Linked DNA regions of Homo sapiens: region 2 is linked to region 1. Evidence: fine-mapped expression QTL. Tissue or cell type: lung. Region 1 holds a variant in brackets; the other region holds the start of a gene. All regions are shown on one strand. Distances are from middle to middle.

Region 1 (10,652 bases):
TAGATTGGTAAATTTCTCCTAATATAAATCCACACCTTGTACACAGACAGAGAGTTGGGGATTGAGACAGAGAGAGAGAGAGAGAGAAACAGAAGTAGGCCTATAGAACTCTGTAAATCCATTAAACTAGGGACATGGATGAGGAAATATATTTGCTCACCCTTTTAGTCACAGGTGGAAGGAAGGTAGGAAGATACTCAGGATTTTTTCTACCAAAGTGGTTCTCAAACTTTAGGGTACACTTGATTGCCTGCAGAGCTTTTGATATTCAGATTTCTGGGTCCCATCCCAGAGTTTTTCATTCAATAGATCTTAGATAAGACTAAGAATTTACCTAACTTCTGACAAGTTCCCAGGTAAAGTGGATGCTGCTGGCCCAAGGACCACTTTTTGAGAACTGCTGCTCTAGAAAGAAGACTACCATGGCACTAGAAATAAAATAATAACAACAATAGCAAAACAAAAACTGTTGCTTATGAAGCATTTGCCATGTGTTAGGCACAGGTCTAGAGCTTTATGTAAAATACCTCATGATACACTTTGGATATTTTTCTCCACCCAAATCTCATGTTGAATTGTAATCCCCAAAGCTGGATGTGGGGCCTGGTGTGAGGTGTTTGGAACATGGGAGTAGATCCCTCATGACTTGGTTCTGTCTTCATGATAGTGAGTTCTCACAAGATGTGATCATTTAAAAATGTGTGGCACTTCCTCTCTCTCTCTCTCCCTCCCCTACTTCTCTTTTGCTTCTGCTTTTGCCAAGTGATGTGCCTGCTCTCCCTTCACATTCTGCCATAATTGGAAGCTTCCTGAGGCCCCTCCAGAAGCAGATACCACTATGCTTTCTGTAAAGCCTGCAGAACCATGAGCCAATAAAACCTCTTTTCTTATATGTTACCCATCTCAGATATTTTTATATAATTAAAAGAATAGCCTAATAAAGAAAATTGGTACTAAGGATGGGGCATTGCAATAAAGATACCTGAGCAGAGATTGGAAGAATTGGAGGGCTCATAAGAAGATAGGAAGTTGAGGGAAAGTTTGCAGTTTCTTAGAGATTGGAAAAATAGTTTTGACCAAAGTGCTGATAGTGATGTAGACAGTCCAGGCTGCTGAGGTCTCCGAAGGAAATGAGGAAATGACTAGGAACTGAAGCAAAAGTCATGAATGTTATGCCTTGGCAGAGAACTTGACTGCATACTATTCATACTGTAGGGATCTCTGGAAGTTTGAATTTGACAGTGATAATTCACTATCTGCTGGAAGAAATTTCTAAGAAGCAAAATGTTTAAGATGTGGCCTGGCTGCTTCTAAGGGCCTCTGCTCAGATTCAGGAGCAAAGGAATGACTTAAAGCTGAAACTTAGGGAAGCATAACATAAAATTTTGGAAAATATGCAACCCGGCCATTTGGTAGAAAAGAAATGCCAATTTTCAGGAGAAGAATTCAAGCAAGACATGGAGCAACCACTTGCTAGAGATGTTTGCATAACTAAAAGGGATCCGAGTGCTGATAGCCAAGACAATGCAAAAAAGGCCTTGAAGGCATTTCAGAGACCTTTGCAGCAGCCCCTCTCATCACAAACTCTCAGGCCTAGGAGGAGAGGATGGTTTCAGAAGAGAAATAGTTTCAGACCCATTGCCCTGTGCAGCTTTGGGATACTGCTCCCCTTATCTTGGCTGTTCCTTCTCCATCCTCAGCTCAAAGTATCCCCAGATACTGCTCATGCCACTCCTCTGGAGAGATTAAGCTGCCCTAAGCCTTGACAACTTCCATGTGGTGTTAAGTCTGCAACCCGCAGAGTGCAAGAGTGAACGCTTGGTAGCCTCACCTAGATTTCAGAAGTTATATGAAAAAGCGTGGGTGCCTAGGCAGAAACCTGCTGCAGATGCAGAGGCACCACAGAGAACCTGTATTAGTGCAGTACCTAGGGGAAATATGGGGTTGGAGCCTTCACACAGAATTCGCACTGGGGCACTGCTTTGTGGACCTGTGAGGAGAAGGCTGCTATCCTCCAGACTCAAGATTGGTAGATTTACTGGCAGCTTGCACCCTGCATCTCAAAAGCTACAAGCATTCACTCCCAATTTGTAACAGCAGCCCTCTGAATCCTGCAAAGACACAGAGGCAGAGCTGCCCAAAGCCTTGGAAGCCCACCCCTTGCACCAGTGTGCCCTGGATGTAGGACATGGAATTAAAGTTTATTTTGGAACTTTAAGATTTAACAACTTCCCTGCTGAATTTTGAACATGCGTGGGGCCTGTAGCCCTTTTCTTTTGGCCAATTTCTCCCTTTTAGAACAGAAATATTTACCCAATGCCTATGTCCTCATTATGTCTTAGAAGTAACTAACCTGGTTTTGGTTTTACAGGCTCATAGGTGGAAGAGACTTGATAGGCTCTTCCTAGAGACTTTTACAGGCTCATAGATATGAAGAGACTTACTGTGAGAATTGGCTCACAGAATTATGGAGGCCAAAAAGTCCCATGATCTGTTGTCTGCAAGCTTTATAACTAGGGAAGCCAGCACTGTAATTCAGTTTGATGTAACTCCCAGTCTTAGTGAGGCCTTGGGTGGTGAGGTTGGGGGAGGAGGGACAACTGATGTAAGTCCTGGAGTTGAAAGTCCCAAAAACCAGGGCTCTGATTCCCAAGAGCAGGAGAAGATGGATTTACTAGATCAAGAAGAGAGAGAGTAAATTCACTCTTGCTTTTCATTTTTGCTTTATCAGGGCCCTCGTGGATATATGACATCTACCCACATCTGTGAGGGTGGATCTTCTGTACTCAGTCTTTTGATTCGAATGTTGATTTCTTCCAGAACACCCTCATGGATTCACCCAGAAATAATGGTTTGCCAGCTCTCTAAGCATCTCTTAACCCAGTCAAGTTGACACATAAAATCTGTAAAGTGGAACTCACCATCTGTAAAATGAAACTCAGTGTTCTTTTGTGAGGTCGTAGGATGTGTTAATACCTTCTCCATTTCTCTTATACCTCCAGCTCTACCATTTACTTATATTGACTTTGGGTAAGTCATTTTGCATTTTAGAATTTCTTGATTTTAGCCCTTTATCTGTGTTTTGACTCGGCTCATGTCATCTGTAAAATAAAAGGATCATATCTATTTTAAGCCTCCTAATTATTTGATGTTCCACTAGATAAGAGGTATGAAAATGCTTTGAAATGGAAAACAAGCACAAAGCTATGTTGAGGAAACTTTCTTATCATTTCTGCTATTATTGATTTTTCCATGTGATTTTCACAAACGTTCTAAAAGGTACCTGAGGATACACTGCTATTTATTAAATTATAGAACTCAATTACTGTCAGAACCATTGAGATTTGCATACTAGGTTTCTTTGGAACTCTCATAAAGAATGTGGACCTAAGTGTTGTGGTGTAAACATAGGAGAAACCCTGCCTTATTTTAATGCATGATTGCTATTTTCAGGCATTCTACTAAAAATTTGTCATCTCATTTAAAATTCACTGTAACTCTATGAGGTTTGATGGTATTATTGTACTAAATTTTCCTGTAAATTGAGGTTTTGAAATGTTAAGCAATTAGCCAAAGATCAGTTAGTTAGTAAACTTGTCATTGAGTCAGAAACAAACAGGGCAGACTCCCAAGCCCGACTTTGTAACTAGTACTTTCTGATTTCGTTTTTCTCAATTCACACAAATAAATCTTAGTAAAATTTCATTTACAAATTTTTCTTTTTCTTTCATTTAAAATGTTCTCATATATTTGATACTTTCTACCCTTTGTCTATATCAGGGCAATGTGTGGCAAGTTTAGTGAGAAACGAGTCTTATTCTTCAATATGAGGGAACTTCTTAACAGATTTGTCATTCTGGACACTGCAACAAAATTTACAACAAGTGTACATTATATCCATTGCACATATCTGTCTACAATGCCTGGAGGGTTTCTTCAACCTCAGATTTTATAAAGACTAAAATAAGGATTTGTCATCCACATTCTGAGATGAAGGCTCAATATATCTTTCTATTTTGTTCATGTATGCAAATACATATTCCAAATTTGCTAAAGTTCTATGGGAGGATCTGATGTAAGCTTAGAGTTACTCCTCCTTAAAGAACTAGCTGAAACCCCAAGGCAGAGCATTGGTCTCTCAGGAAAGCCACCTTAACTTCCTCCAGGTGCAGCTGAATCAGCTCTATGTCTTTCATTCTCTCTCTGCTCTTGCTGGTCTATTCTTGAATGACACTTCCTCAAGGATATACTTAACCTTCATCTTCACTTGTGCACTTGGGCAAGGCTCATCTTTAGTTGGCTTTGTCATGGGAATGTCACTCTTTCCAGTAACTCAGCAAGTGTCTGACTCATCAATTGCAGGTTAACAGGGAAACAGCTTCCTGTTCTCTAGGTAAAATTCTTGCGGGACCTGTCCCTCTGTAACCTTAGCACCTACCTGCATTCTATCTACTGCTTTTTCTGTTATAGAGTGTTTGAGGAGAGGGACTGTAATTTGGAGCAGGTAGAATAACTCACTATTTGGGTGTAAAGTCTTTCACTGTGAAGAAAGAACATATTTAATACAATTTGACAACTTTATTGAAGGCTCAGTATTAGCAAGTCTGAAACTTCCCAAAGTGCAGAGCTTATATTCAAAACAATTTTAGAAGAAGGACAGAATTTTTTTGATGAGTATGTGTTTAATGTGTTTTAAAATAATTCTCTCTAGCTTTCTACTTTAAAATATAACTGGTATCTCCATAAGCACTGATAATTGTGATTTTACAACTATCAGTGCTTATGACCAGGTAAATGCCATCTCAAGACACCAAAGTAGATTGTCAGAACCATCAAGATAGCCAGTTAGCTGAAGGATCTAGAAAGCATAGTGAAGTAGGCTTATGAATGAGTGCACTTTGAGAAATGCTGACCTAGATTAAACGATATCAAGACACACTCCATAGGACATTGTCAGTCCCCCTACTGTTGTTCCCCATAGCTGTTTGTGTGGCTCTCCTATTTACTTATTTCGTGTTTGCTCACATTGTCTGTATCCAAATCTAGAGTCTACCAATTTTCTTGCTGTGTGACTCAGGAACAATTACTTACTGCTTGGAGTCTAGGTCCCTTCATCAATTATATGAAGAACTTAGAATAACACCTACCTCTCAGGGTACTTATAAGGCTTAA[A/G]TGAGACTATATATGTATTTAGCCTAGTACCTGGCCTGAAGAAAGGGCTTAATAGGTGGTAAAAGTATCTTTAAGGGATAAAATACATATGACGTTATTTCAAGCTTAATAATCCAAAATTTTCAGGGAATTCTAAAAACTGAAACTGACTTGCAACTGTTCTGCTAACTAAACTGTGGGTCAATTGAGGCTGACAGAAGTTGAGATGTTTGTGGTCACTGATATATCCAGAGCCTGGGATCTATCCCTCCTCTTCTGACTGTGTGGAAGGGCTCTTTCTGTGTCCTAGTGCTCCTCAGAATCAAACATTTCCCTAGTCTTCTTACTGAAAATATGATTCCTATTCAATTAATCAAATGCTGTATGTACCAACACAGAGACTCTTTAAGAAAATCTGATGTAACAATCCCAAGAATCACAACCGACTTAGTGAAAGGTAGAGTCCTGGGGTTTACCAAATCCTTGTCCTCCACACCTCAGTGGTACATTGCATAAATGCATTTCAGAAAAGAGACTAGGGACATTTCCTTCTCTCCTCCCAAGGTAATGCAAAAAATAAAAGAATCCTTTATAAGTGTCACAATGGTGCTTTTTTATCAAGGGCAACAGATGTATAATACATTACATTATTTATTGTTTCCTTTCTCTGACCTGAGGTAAAGAGTTCTGTTGTCTTATCCTCAGATGGAATAAGAGTGAAAGTGTTTGTTTCTTTACATATAATCAGATTAGTTGTTGTCATTACACTGTTTCCAAGTTGTTTCTTACTGTGTCTCTCTCTCTTTCATAATGGGAAAATATGTTCTATGCAAAATTGGAGACATGCTTCTGCTTTTTCAGATGTTAGGGGTACCATCTGCACAAGGTCCCAAAGTTTGTGAAAGAGAAGGTAGGTGACACCTATCAAAACTTGATGCAATAAACAGTCTAGATGATGGGGAACACAGGGTTGGGCATTTTTGAGGCGGATGAAAGCGGGCTTCTTATTATCCAGAGAAGTTATGCCACCTATAGGCTAAGTCATATGTAACAGACATAACAAATGGTCATAGAGATAACACACACAGTGCAGACCTCTTTTCTCACTCTATTTTCCTGCACACAATGCAGCCCTCTTTTCTTTCCTATCAGGAAAATAAAGAACGAGTTGTCCAAGTTCACTTACTTAGTACTTAGGCAAGTTCATCCAGTGTTGTTAAAGTAACATCTGACCACTGCTTTCTAATAGCATACCAAACTTGGACAATTAACTAAAAGTTTCTAAACCTCTGTTTTTCTCATCTTTAAAATAAGACAATAGTGACTAAAGATTTGTTGTGTGCGGTTATCATGAGCTGCTATATATCGTGCAACGCTTGTCATGGATTAGATGCCTAAAAAAGTTGAACCATTACTTTACTCTTAGCAGTCATTTGCTATTGTGGACATTCAGATTGTTTTCATTCATTTGTTAATGCTTTTATTAGAAAACTGTGAGGCAAATACTCTGTGCCAGGTCCTATGCAGGGCTAACTATGGAATGGGACTGAAAGTCTGGGAGGACAGATGACATCAACAATACTATTCAAGTTACATAAAAGAGGCAAATTATCTTAGGATGGGACAGTGTTATAGGAGGGTTTTTGCTTTTTGTTTTGCCTTCTTTCAGTTTTATTTTTAAAGTATGATATAAAATTAACTTTTAAATAATAGAAAGAATATATAAATATTTCAACCAAAGCACTGGAGCACTAATATGGAAAAAACATAATTTTGTTGACTTCTGTAGGTTTAACTTGTGTTTAGTATTTGTGACAGGGACCAAGAGTTGTGCCCTTTCTCCATTCATTTCTTCTTCCATTGTAAGAGAATTATTATCTGGGTACATGGCATCCCAGAATTGCAACTGTGTTATCTAAACTCTCCTGCAGCTTTGTGAGACCATATAACTAAGCTCTGGGCAATGAGACATAAGAACAGAAGTTTTCAAATTTATAAAGTTCAATTTATAATTTATAAAATTTATCAGCCATAGTTTTCAAGGTAAGATATTTTTCTCTTATGTTTTCCCCCAGCAATTTTATAGATTTAGGTTTTACATTGAGGTTTATGATCCATCTTGAGTTATTTTTCATGGATGGTGCAAAATTTGGTTCGAAGTGAATTTTTTTTGCATATGGGTACCATTTACTAGTTCTTTGGGTACCATTTACTAAGAAAGCTATCTTTCCTCTACTGAATTGCGTCCACATCTTTGTTGAAAATCAGTTGTGCATATATGTATGCGTTTATTTTTGTATTTTCTATTTTTTTCTATTGATAAGTGTGTCCGTCTTGATGTTATCACTATTCTCTCGCAATTACTGTAGCTCTGAATTATTGAAATCAGGTAGTATTTGTCCTCCAAGTTTTGTTCTTTTCAAGGATGCCTAAGCTTTACTAAGTCCTTTGCATTATTATATGGTGTTTAGAATCAGTTTGTCAATTAAAAAAAAAGCTTTCTGGAATTTTGATTGAAATTCTATTAGATTTGTGGGTTAATTATGAACATTTGATGTCTTAGCTACCGAGTCTGCCGACACATGAACACAGCGTATCTATCTCTTCATTTAAGACTTCTTTAATTTCTCTCGGTGATGTTTTATAGTTTCCAGTGCACAAGTTTTACACTTCTTTTTTAGACTTATTTCAAAGTATGTCAAATTGTTACAGAATTGTAAAGTTCTCCTTCGTTTTCCACCATGATTATAAGTTTTCTGAGGCCTCCCAGTCATGTAGAACTGTGAGTCAACTAAATCTCTACTGTTTGTGAATCACCCAGTCTCAGGTGGTATCTTTATAGCAGGGTGAAAACAGACTAATACACTTCATTTTCATCTAATGTATTGTTTCTGTTCTAGGTTCTCAGCCAGTATATCTCATTATATGTACATATTATATCTTTTTAGGCCCCTCTTGGCTGTGACAGTTTCTAAGACTTTTTTTAATTTTTGATAAAACTGGCAGTTTTGAGGCATAGTGGTCTGGTATTTTGTAAAGCATCATTCTATTGCAATCCGTGGTAAAGTTATTCTTTTTTTTACTTTATGAATACTGTACTTTTTGAAAGGGATTCCCTACGGTTAGCCCACATTAATGAATGGGAATGCTCCACTTCCTTAAGGTGAAATATCTATGTAAATTATTTATAAGTCTTCTGCATGTGAGATGTATCTCTTGTAATTTATTTATTTATTTATTATTTAGTTATATCACTATGGACTCATGGATATTTATTTTATTCTTTTGTTTATAATCTGATACTACTTTGTATTACATATACTATATCATATTATATATACCATGTATTTATTTATTGCTCTGATTATTACATTTTTGGCCACTAAGAGCACTTTCAGTTAGTGTCTCTTTGTCATATCCCATCAGTGTACTGTGTGTTGTTTTATTTTCAAGTGACTTCTTTCTTTCTAGTACCACAAGATATTTCAAATCTCATATATTTCCTGCCCCAGTTCTAGAATCAGCCATTTCTCCAAGAAGACTGAATTCCTTTCATTTGAGAATGGTATTAGAATCTGAATTGTGCATGCTAGGTATGGTTACTGCTGCTGGGTATTATTATTTCTAGGTCCTCTCAGGTGACAGAGAAAGAAAATAACCATATATGGTTATATTCTAATTTGCACATATATGCATATCTATATTCCTATATGTAATAATCTATATTTATTAAATTAAATATGAGCTAATACTGATGTCTCCAATTCTAATGCATTACCATATGGGCCATTCTGGCCTCCTCTCCTTGCTTATCTGTAAACTTATACTGTAACACTGAGAAACCAGTTTTTGCCATTCATTTACTTAATTGTTCAATTCTGGTATAAATGTATAAAGCACCAGAATTTTTAGCCCATGACCCTGTGGGAAACAAATTCACAAACTGGAGTGCAGTGCAAAGCAATTGCTTTCTAAATTTAAATTTCTGATTGCTTATTCATAATATACAAAGTTACGATTATTTATATATTGCTTTTATTCTTCGGCCTTGTTAAACTCACTTATTAATTTTAGAAGATGATTTTATAGACACCAGTAAATGTTTTACATATGTTATCATGTTCTCTGGGAATAAAGACAGCTTTACTTCTTTCTTTGGAATCTGTATACCTGTAATTTCTTTTCATGTATTTTTACAATGACTAGAACATCCAGTAAAATGTTGAACAGAAGGGGTTAGCATGAGCATCTTTGCCTTTCTCCTCATCGCTGGAAAAAATGTTCAATTTTTACATCTTTATCTATGATGTTTTAGGAAGTTTGTTTTCCCTTTATTTGCTGAATGTTTTTTTTTTTTTAAATGAGGAATAGATGTTGTATTTTCTCAAATAGTTTTTATGTAACTATGGAGATGATCATACAGCTCTTTCTTTATTCTGTTGAGATACTGACATATACTTGTTAGTCTTTTACTGTTAAACCAACCTTGCATTCTTAGAATAAGCTACTGGGTCATATAACTTTTGTATGTCTTTGCTAAAATTTTGTTATTAATAACTCCATTGACATTCATAAGAGTTATTAATCTGGGCTTTTATTTATTTATAGTGTCCTTGTCTGATTTTGGTTATGGGGAAACCAAATAGAATTAGTTGTGAAGTATTTCCTCCTCTTCAATTATTTTGGAAAAATTTATATTGAATAGGTTTTAAATATAAAGTTAAATTTATTAATGACCATTTGGGCTACAATGTGAGCTTTGGTAGTTTGTGTATTTAAAATAGCTGTCAATTTCACCTACGTTATGGGATTTTTGACATAATGTTTTAATATTCTCTTATTAACTTTTAAAAATATCTGTAATCTGTATCCATTTTAAACCTTTTACTCCTGATGTTGGGAATTTGTTTCCACTTTTTCAGCTGGATAAATATGGCTAGATGTTTATCAGGTTTCATGATTTTGATCAAAAAATTGACTTCTGGTTTTATTAATTTTATCTATTTTTGTATTCTATTTCATTGATTTTCACTCTGATCTTTATTATTTCTTTATTCTGCTTACTTTGCTTTGAATTTGGCCTTATTTGTCTAGATTTTCAAGATGTAATCTGAGGTCATTGATTTGAGACCATTCTTTTTATCATATGAAAGCATTTAGTGGTATAAATTTTTCTCTATGCATTGTCAGCACCCGACAAATTCTGATATGTTTGCCATTACTTTTATGCAGTTCACAATGATATCTGACTTCTATTTTGATTATTTCATTGAGTCATCCTTAGAAACATGTTATTTACTTTCCAAATATGTTGAATTTGAGGATTTTCCAGATACCATTCTGTAACTGAGTTAGTACCATGGTGCCAATTAACATACTTTGTATGATATCAAAGTGTTATTTATTGAGATTCATTTTATAGGACAGGGCATAGTAATGTTGGTAAGTTCCATGTGCACATGAAAAGATTGTGAATTCTGCTATTGTTGGGCAGAGTTTTC
Region 2 (10,652 bases), 150 kb before region 1:
ATGCCACTCCAGATGCAGAAAACATATGGGTGATTATGTCTGCTCTAGACAATAATCTCTTTGTTGGGTGGGAAGTCAATGTTTGTAGTGTGTTAATTGAGTAGAGAAAACATAAACCATCTCTTTGCTGATGGCAGGGAATTTCCTGAGTGGCCCCTTTTAGGTTCCATTTTGTATCCACAGTGGAAAGCAAATGGTGATTCAATAAACACAGGGCTTTGTCTCTTCATATAGGGTGTCTGCAGAGATTTTCAGTGTGGTTGCTACCCTGTCAAGTCACAGATGTCATTTCCTTCAGGGTAGAAAGAGGGAAAGCAGATTCTCATAGCTTAGATTAAAGGAAGGCAATCATTGGCTCATTTGTTCCTTTCAAAAATGACATTTTCAGTGAAGTGAAACAGCTGCCAAGGTGTGCTAACTCTATACTCCCATTTTCGTTTCCTAAATCCTGAAAATGCTAAGTTAAACATTAGCTATCCTCCTAAAGAGAATGAAGATTAATGTGGAGAAAGATGCTATTCCAGTGTTTATGGCTTTTAGTTGACAGATTTGTATCTAGCTAAGCAGAATGATGAGCTAGCTACAATGAGCCTATGCCCAGCAATTCACTCATTTTTCTCTCATAATTTCCCTTTGGCTTCTTCGTTAAATGTTTATTTAACTCTCTTAAGTAGTAAAAGAAGTACTCCTCAGTCTTTAATAGTTTCAAATGCTTACATGTTTAGAAGGATAATCACTAAAGGGTTTCTGAAGAATAATTGGCATCAGAGTCAGGGTTTGAATTCTGTCCTCCACTTGCCAGGTTCCTGATCCTCAGGGTATCACTGTAAAGTTTCTAGGATTCTGTCATTTTTTTCTCTGAAATGAAAATGAAGGATGATACCATCTATTTTTCATCATTAGATATGATGATGCACATAAGGGTGCTTAGTTACATGTAAAATACTGTGCAAAGTAAAGGATTATTATTGTTTTTGATTTCTTTAGAAGATGTTTACGTGTAAGACTGCGTTACACACATATGATGTGTATGTGTGTGTGTGTATAGAAAGCTTTCACCAACACAACATCAGGGCACTTGGATATTTTATAATATTTCCTATATGATGAATTGTCTTCTTCATTCAGTGACTGTTTGTTGAGTACCTGCTATATGTCTGGCATTTTTCTACAGGCCGAGGATAAAATGCTATTTATGATAGACAACATCCTTGCCCTTATGGTGTTTACATTCTTGTGAGGGTGTGGGGAGAAACATAGTAGATATAAACAAATAAGATAATTTCAGATAGCAGATGTGCTCTGGAGAAAATGAAACAAGTCGTTTACTAGAGAAAGTAGCATTTGAGAGTCTGGAACAATGAGAATGTGCCAGTCTTATAAAGACTTGGGAAAAGTTGCTCTAGGTAGCAGGTGAAAAGACCCAGAATTAGGAAGAGCTTGGAATATGGCAAAAATGAATAGCATATTTGGAGCCTAATGAAGAGAATACAAGAGAAGAGAAGAGAGGGAAATATGGTTGGAGAGAGAAGAAGCAACTAGCTCAGAGAATCAAGCATGCTGTGGTAAGAAGTTAGGATTTTACTCGAGTTGCTATAAGAAGTGTTTAGCAGGTTTTGAGCATTCCTTATGTGTTACCAGACATGGAAAACTAAATAGTACCTATTCAAAAATCACAGATTCTTATAAAAAGCGATTTATTCTCTACTTCGTCCATCTGCGCGATCTAGGAAAGACTCTTAAGCCAATAGAGGGCGCCAAAGGACCTTTAAAAGCCCTTTCAGCACTGAAGTGAGGGGAGAGCGCTCTGGTTGTTCTTTTAGAGTTTTGGTAAAAGGTGACTCAACCTATGAAATCGTAGTTTATCTGTAATTCTTACCCAAACAAAAAATTGAATGAGCTTAGTTTACATGCATCAGGACCTTGGATTTCACAGTGGAGAATTGTTTATGATGAGATGAGGGTGGGAAGACATTTGGGGGTTATTTTTAATCTTCTCCCATCTGGTAGTATTTGAGTAGAATATAAAACAAATATGGAGCCAAAATTTACTTTCTGGATTCACTTGGCAAGAAAAATATATCTATACTTAGAACTTTGAAAACACTCATAATTTGCCACTTAGGATGTGTTATTCTAAATACTATTCCAAACTTACTTATTAAGTTTTCTAGTTGTGTGTACTGAGAAAGGCTATTGCGTGAAAAGTAGTGGGTTATAATACATGGAATTTCTTATACATGATCAGATAGCTATGCTTTATCGTGAAAACAACTCATAGTGAGTTAGATGAAAAAAAGAGAAGGCAAAGAGAAGGAAAAAGAAGGAGGAAGGGGAGGAAGACAGGGAAGAAAAGATCTGCTAATGTCTATGTATACAACAAAGAAAAATAAAAAAGAGAATGAGAGAGCTTGGAAGAAAGTAGATTTAGATGTACTGGCATGTAGATCTTCATGTAAACAGGATTGAGAAATAGTTAATACCAAAGAATTTGACTTCCACTTCCCAGATTGAGACTTATTTGTTATATGTAGATATGAAGGTTCATGGTGACTGTGATAAAACACTCATTATTGTCTTTAATAAGAAAAAGTTCAGTCAATCAACCCTTACTCAGAGTCTCTCATCTCTCCATTTCATGCTTGATAATCACAGGCATGTAATTTATAAACTCTTTGCTTTACCCAGAGAGACTTCAGAAAGCACTGTAAAAGCAGCCAACCAGATAAGTCACCTGAGCAAAGGAATATAGAACCATTGGAGAAGAGACAGGATCCCACATTGACCAGAAGTCCAGGAGGCCAGTGATGGGTGAAGCACTCTAACAGTGCTGGCAATCTAAACATCATGAACAATTTTCAGTGGGGTCGTGCCTGTTTATTCTAAGCATCATCTATTCAAATTCGACCATAAGGAAGAGGAGTTTTAAGCTTCTAATACAGCAAAAATGATACAGAGGCTAACGACAGAGCAGGCCCATACAAAGCAGCCCCCTGACCATGCATCTCACACCAGCCATCTGTTTGAAAACACTTCACTTGACATGTTTCCCTCATTTTTGAGAAACCCCCAAAGTCACTCTCCTGTTACCTACCATACATTTTGCAAAGACAGTGCCATGCCATTAATTAGCTATTGGTTCTAGTAAATTTAAACAATAGAAACATTGTCTACTTTCTCATCCATAGACAATGTGAACTTTGTTCACATAAGCATATCCATATTTAAGGGGAAGAATAGAAAAAAAAGGAGGAGAAAGGAGGGAAAGATACCTAAAGAACAAGATTCCACCTAAATATAATATTTAAAGCATCTACATCAAAATGCCCTTTTCCAATTAATCAAAACTTGCATTCTTTGCCACCCCCAATTACTGAGGTTGGTTTATTCAAAGCACTGGGGTCGCATCGTGTCATGAGAGAAGATATCATGTTTGGTCACCAAGGCAATAAAAAATTCCCGAGAAAACCATGTGTCATAGGATTGTTTGAAGGATTGGATGACATAACACGTACAGTACTCAGCACTGACAATCAGTATGTGTTTAACAAATGTATGTTCCTTTGAGAACTGAGGGTTTGTGGCTTAGAGATACGGAAAAACCCAACTCTGAAGCCCAGAGCCTGCTACAACACCCTGCTGCGACTCTCCTGAGGAGAGATGTTAAGGAATGGGTCACCTTCTAAATCTGGATGCTTCTCCTCCCCTTCTGTCTCCTGCTCCGGAGACTGCAGACCCTGAGGGAGGGGAATGAGGAGCAGAAAGCAGACTTTCTTAGCTGATGTCAGAGTAGAATTACTCATAGAATCAGAGTAGAAGGGTAGAGTTGGTAGAAACTTTTAGAGGTCATTTAGTTCCACTTTAAGAAGAGATTGCATTCCGCTAACACTCAAGACCTCCTAGGTACAAGGCACTGTGCCAGACTGAAGGCGGAGACTTAAAGAGAGTGAGGCAACCCTGGCTCTCTGGAAGCTATATGATCAATAACCCGGGGAAGTTAGAGGGGAAACAAATGCAAGGCAGGCAGGAGTTACCTGGTTGATGGAAATGACCGCCAGCCGGGGTATGACCACTTGGAGGATGACCTGCAGCAGCGAGGTGCCCAGGCCGGCCAGGATGGCCCAGGTGAGCGGCAGCGGCAGCATACTGTAGGTGGCGAAGAGCGTGAAGAGCACGTAGCCTATGCCGTCGCCCAGGAGCCCGTAGCCGAGGCCTGCTGCCAGGATCTGGGTGGTCATGGCCACCCAGGTGACCACGCCGCTGTACTGCAGGTACGTGTGGGAGGTGGTGTCCTTCCTGACCACCACCAGGGCGCAGATCACTACCTCAATGCCGGTGAAGAAGCCCAGCAGGATGCCCTTGAGCGGGTCCATGGGGGCCGAGGCCAGGCTCAAGTGTAGGACCAAGAGAGTGAGTTTGGTCAGCACGTCCAGCACGTTCATCACCACTTCCGATTTGCGCCTTTGGCCCAAGAAATAGCGCTGGTAGAGGCGTTCCAAATCCCGAGATTTGAAGGAGTTGCGCAGGGTGGGGAAAATGACCCCTCGGTAGCTATAGCCCCCATTAAGAAAGAAATCCGAGTTGCTAGGGGCACAGTCAAGGTGCAGGAAGCCCAGGTCGCCCCCGCCTCCGCTGCCGCTGGCACTGCCGCTCCCGCTGCGTTCCGGGAAGACTTTGGTGCCGCAGGTGCTGTGCGCTCGCTCTCCCGGGCCCAGCGAGTAGAGGGGCAGCGCCGAGTCGCCTGACAGCTGCGGCGCGTGGTGGTTGGGGCCGCCGCCCGCAGGGTCCGAGGCTTTGCCCGAGCCTCCACTCCCGCTGCCGCTGCCTCCCCGGTGCCCGTGAATGAAGCGCTGCTCCGTGATGTGTCGCACCGCCGTCTGCCACAGCAGCCGCTGCGGCCGGGAGGCGCTCCTGCCGTCGCCGGCCGGGGGCGTCGGGTGGATGGTGTAGAGTTCCTCGCTGCCTGTAAGGCAGCGCACATCGGAGAGCTCCATGGCTCTGGGCCGCAGGGAAGGAGGCCCAGAACCTTGGGGAGGCAGCCGGAGGAGGGGTTCCTAAAGACTCAAAGGCGGCCTGGTAGGAGCTTGGCAAGGATCCTTTTTATCCTAGGCTGCCCCGTTGCAGGAGCCCTGCGCTAGGGCTCCCTGTAGGTCGGGTCATACTGTGCCCAGGGGCAAAGGGCACCTGGAAGATCGCGGCGGACCTCGGCGTCCTTGCGTGCTGCTCTCCCGCCAGCCGGCGCAGCTTGGGTACGCAGCGGCAGTGGCTATTTGTCCTCAGGAGCCGCAGCGCTGTGAGCCACGCAGCCCCTTCCTGGGCTCAGGCTCCTTGGTTGATTCTAGGCTCAGCGTTTTGGCGCAGCCTTTGCTCTCCAAGAGACGCCTAAGCGCCTGGGCGCCGTGCTTCTGCTGCGCGTCGGGCGGGTCCTGGCTGCTGCACTGGGCTTTGGACGCCCACTGCTCCGCGGCTGCAGGGGGCCTGGCCGGCGGTGACCGGCGGCAGCGATGGGTGCGAAGTTAGCAGATGTGGCTGGAATCATCGCCCTTCGGAGAACTCCATTGCGCCGGGATGGGGAGCAGGGGCGGAGCTGGGGGCGGGGGCAAAGAAGGAGGAGGAGGGGGTCACGGTGAGGTGGCGGGGCGCCCCGCGACAGGGTTGGAGAGGTGGTAGCCTCGGCGCTAACAATTCACCAAATAGTTAATTTGGAGGAAGGGGTATGCTGAGGCTCCCTCCTAGGCTCTTTCCTAGTTCGGGAGCAAGGACTGACAGCGCAGCGCTGGCTCTGGCCAGAAGCATCCCTCCCGGAGGGGGTGTGGGGACTCTCGCTCCAGGGTCCCAGCCTGAGCTATAAGACGAGGTCAACGCTTTCAGCTGTGCTTTCGAAGGGTCGCAGCACACAGTTCTCATCCCCTTTATTTCGTTCTTTGGAGTCCATTTGGCTCGGAGCTAGGAGGATCAGGAGAGGCGGGGGAAGGAAAAAGTGGTGAGGGCTCCAAAGCCAAGAGCTCCGAGAACGAAGAGAAGCCGCCGGTGCGGATATCTGAGGCTGAGAACCGAAGCTTGGCGGATGAGGCGAAGGTTTGGAGGAGAAGGGAGGCCCGAGGCCGCGTGGAAGTCGACAGAGACGCCTCTGGATCTAGGGAAGCGCCGCCGCGTGCCACCCTGGAGCTCTGAAACGCACCGCGGGCGCCAGGCGACTGGGAGAAATTTGGAGACCTGTCAGAGTGGTCAGACACCCGCGGTGACTTAAACCCGCCCCCGCGCCAAGCCACGCCCCCGGAACCGGGCCGGGGGTGGCGGAGGGACCTGCCATCCAGATCTGGCCAGGACGCCCCAGGTCTTGTAGGCAGAGGCACGCGCGGGCCGGCGTGGGAGAGGACCACTGAGGGCTAGGGCCGGCGGGCGCCCCCGGCCTTCCCTGGGCGCACTGCGATCCAGCGTTCCAGCTGGCCGCGCCAGCCGGTTCCTCCGCTGTTCTTTTTTAGGCATTGGCTCTTGTCCTCTGCAGGTGCGGAGCCAGGACTCGTAGGCCGCTTTGCGCACGGACTCGGAGAGCCCAGCGCGACGGAATACAGGGTTTCCTTTTCGCCCTTCCTACCCGTGCGTCTTTTGGCAAAGCCAACTTTCGGGCTAAACGCAAAATCCCCCAAGAGGCCGCAATCATAGAGGCAGTCAGTTTCCTACAGGAGCCTCTTTACTACCTCGATCCGAAGGGGGTGGAGGGTACGGGACATCAAAATGGGGACGTCCCCTGCCTGCCTCGCACACTAAGTTTCTCCGCTTACAATAGGGTCGAGGAGGCGGACGTGGAGAAAGGCATGTCCAGGGGCCCCGCCTCGCCCTAGCCCAGGTTTCCCGCCCGCCCAGACTCAGCCGAGCGCTAGCGGACAAAGCCTGCGGCGGAGCTTGCGGCGGACCAAGTCGCTGAGCGGTGGGAGCTTAGTGCCGGTGCTAATGACAGATGAGCCGCGTCCCGGGGTGCAGGGTCTGCAGGGCAAACGCGGCCGCCGCAGTCCCGCAGCCGGATGCAGGTGGAGGAGCGGTGGTGGTCACCACCTCCTCCACCAAGACTGCGGCTGCAGCCAGTGGAGCCCGGGCCCAGAGCACAGTCAGCTGATGGCCAATGACGTCAGGCCCTGGGCGCGTTCGCGGCTCCCCGTGGCGTCCCATGAAAGCCCAAATGACCGCCTTGCCTTGCCGCCCCCTCAGTCCCTCCTGAGCAAGAAGAGAAGCTCCCTTCCCTCCTGCCTGTCCTAAGGAAAAATAATTTCGATACCCCCACCCCCAACCACATACACTGTCTCCAGGGTTATTTCTGTCGGCCGTGTCCCAGAAACGCGGGGTTTAATTCTTTGCTTTTTAATTCCTGTTTTTCTCCCCACGCATTTCGGCTTCGGGTTAAACCCAAAACGGGCCACCTGCCTTGCACACAGAATTCCAGAAGGAAGAGAAAAGAATCCTCTAATATTCCCCCCAATCCCTAACCAGTAGATTTCTAGAATTTCGTTCACTCCCTGGAAAAGACTTCTTTAATTTCAATCCTTTTAAGTTGTATTCTACCATCCCCCAAGAAAGCCAAAATGAAACGCTCAACTTTAAATAGATAGACGGCTGATTCTATTTTTAACTCTGCTTGTAGATGAATTAATCTGTTAACATTAAAGATCTCCCAGAATAGTTGGCCTATCCCATGGGCCTGGAAGTTAAGGGTAAAAGTACCTCAAACAACTCTGTGTTACAGTTATCTAGCCCTTAATGAAATAACCCCTGCAATTACATTCCTGTCAAAGAAATGCTTCTTGCTTCTTCCTTCCTGAATTTCTTGGACTCATCAGCCTCACCCTACTGGAACTCGGGTGGGTAATGAGTCTCTTAACTTGAGATGGGAACCCAGACGGAGCACAGCTGGGAAGGCTGTCCTATAGACCCTATGCCAGAATGTGTGGGTAGCTGTGTCCTCTCTCTGCGGGCATTGCCCGAAGGCATCTGTGCTAATGACCATATTAGCAAACTTGGCAATGGAAGGCATCACTTTATTTTCTCACTTCTTTCTCCTTGGGGCCCTAAGGACTCAGCCTGAATAAATGAGGGGCTGGATGCAGTTGGAACTTTCCTATGAAAATCTTTCTCCAACCTGGACAGCTCCCAGGATGATTTATTCAGCAGCAAAAGGAGGCGGGCCAAGGAGGGGGAGATTGGACCCAATCAGATAAAATGACTCAGGCTGATGAATGAACACAGCATGCTACAGAAAGAAACTCAATTTCATGAACTCAGAGGTTGAAGCTAATGCATCAGGGAGAACACATCACATCTGTTCAACTGACTGAACGCTTCATGGCTGGAAGGGTGTTACCGTAGATTGTTTTAAAATAAGAACATGGATGACACAATTAGATTCCGATGTTCTTCTTGTTGGGATGACATAGTGCCATTCAGCCCAAGAAGCATTCTGTTTTTGAATGAAAGCATTGGTTCAACACAAATATTTAGAAGCTTTTTGGAATATGCAAACCACCAAATGATTAAGAGCCACTTAAAACAAGAGAAGTCGGCTGGGGGCGGTGGCTCACGCCTGTAATCCCAGCACTTCGGGAGGCCGAGGCCGGCGGATCACGAGGTCAAGAGAATGAGACCATCCTGGCCAACATGGTGAAACCCCCTATCTCCTAAAAATACAAAAACTAGCTAGGTGTGGTGGCGCATGCCTGTAATCCCAGCTACTCGGGAGGCTGAGGTAAGAGAATCACCTCAACTCGGGAGGCAGAGGTTGCAGTGAACCGAGATCACGCCATTGCACTCCAGCGTGGGCGACAAGAGTGAAACTCCGTCAAAGAAAGAAAGAAGAAGAAAGAAAGAAAGAAAGAGAGTGAAAGGGAAAAAATCAAGAGAAGTCCACACATTCTTTTGAAGCTATGATAGATCTTTCATAATGCTTTCATTTATCCTCTGCATATTTATTAAGGCAGGGTCTCTACTGTGATCTGAGGACAGCGTTTTAACAATTCAGTGTCTTTTTGCACACAACTTCCTCCTCTTCCCCTGTATTCCTCCCTGAATATACTTGCTTACCTCATCCTTCAAAGTTTGAGCAATGTTGTCTCTGCATGAGAACTTTCCTGATATCCCCATTGAGAACTAATGACTTCCTTCTCTGTTTAATAGTCTGTTATGGGTACTTTTGGTATGGTCCCTTATACAGGGACTAGCCATTGGCGTATGTATCTGTCACTCCTCCCCATGAAACAGTGAGCTCCCTGAAGCGAAAAACTGATTTTCCTTGGGCCCATATCCCCCAACTTCTAGCAACTATAATTTACATAGAGATAATAAGATAATAATAATGTTAGCCACGATTTAGCACCTACTAGGTGTCAGCTCTTTCTTAAGATTTTTTACAAATGTCCCATTTAATCATTCTAGTAATTATGTGAATTAGGTCCTTCTCTATTTTATTATTTCCATCTTACTGACTAGGATACTGAGTACCGAGGCTTCATGTGGCTAAGTACCTTGCCCAGGATCTCGTGGTTAAATCCAATGCTTAAAGTTGTATTGCAGGAATCTGACATCCACATGCTCAATAAAAATGCTGTCATAAGCAGTCAGTAACTGATAGAAATAAAAATGTCACTTTTTTGAGTTTTCAAAGGCAAAGTAAATAAGAAACTTCTGAGACATTTAGACTTTGAGAAATCTGTTAGGATGAGCCTGAATCGCAGATGAAGGTAGTAGAACTCTTTATTGTTTGAATGGAGGGCCTACTAATTCTGTTTCTGTTCAAAACTTAGACACTATTTCTATAATTTATAGAAAAAAACCAGACTTTCACAATTGAGTTTAACGAAAATACTTAACTTGGTGTAATTTATTTCATTTAGGTAGTTGTGGTGGTGGGGGAAATATCCTATTGTTTCACTGGAAAATAACTTATTTGTTTAGTGATGTTGCTACATACCATTGGCCACATTTACAGTAGATATGTTTAAGAAAAGGAAATTTGTTTTCTCCCTTGATGTACCTTTGACTTCCTAGGTTGATTATATTAATATATGAATTTAAATTTTTTAAGAGCCATAACCTTTGCTAAGTACGCATAGAAACTCTGACACTTACTGAAGACATATAAAATATTCACATGTAAAAGAAAAGATGGACTCAGTTCAGGAAGGGGACATGAAACCAGAGAGATCCTGTTTCCAAAGGGAAGGAGGGTGTTTGTGACAAAGCAGCTTCCAAAGTAGAAAATCCTTAAAGGAATATTACATGCCTGCCTTGCCTGGAAGAATTACTCTTAGGAAATATCAAAAGTATCAGCTGCTTTGACAGCACTCCAGGAAATGTCAATGTCTTAGATACATAGGGATCATCTTTGAAAAGTTCTATGAATTAAAAACTTTGCACTCACATTTCATCTGGAATGCAGTACAATACACAATAGAATACAGAAGATGTCTATGTTACTTTTATCTTATATTTTCTCTGCCTTGAAAAATACAGGAAAAAATGTTTGTAGACATTTTGGATCTTCACAGGAACTAGTTTAAATTAGATTCTGGTGCCTGGAAGGAGAAGAGTGTCTCATCAGTGGGAAAACAATTCTGAGACAAGAAAGGCATAGCTCATCCATCAGGCAGTCAGAAGAAGAAAAC

Which allele goes with the higher level. Positions count from the first base shown, and alleles are read on the strand shown. Sizes are in standard deviations (SD) of each study's normalised expression.
As copies of A replace G in region 1, the expression in lung of the gene that starts at base 5,570 in region 2 goes up (moderate effect, 0.73 SD a copy in GTEx).

Evidence for each region. PIP is the estimated chance that this variant, and not a neighbour inherited with it, causes the effect.
Region 2: ADCY8 starts here. The variant in region 1 is fine-mapped to the expression of ADCY8 in lung (GTEx, PIP above 0.99).

What each region holds. Positions count from the first base shown.
Region 1 is chr8:131,184,531-131,195,182 of GRCh38, forward strand. All of the region lies in intron 3 of LOC105375760 (a long non-coding RNA gene), which reads left to right. Among named protein-coding and RNA genes, the nearest start is that of IADEN, 120 kb to the right of the region's middle. The variant A/G (reference allele first, on the strand shown) is at 5,173.
Region 2 is chr8:131,035,340-131,045,991 of GRCh38, forward strand. ADCY8 (adenylate cyclase 8) reads right to left here and starts at 5,570. Exons shown (of 18, transcript NM_001115.3): 1 at 4,035-5,570. The coding sequence starts at 4,994. LOC105375760 (a long non-coding RNA gene) reads left to right here and starts at 4,191. Exons shown (of 6, transcript XR_928653.3): 1 at 4,191-4,271. RefSeq lists enhancers at 4,770-5,309, 5,310-5,848.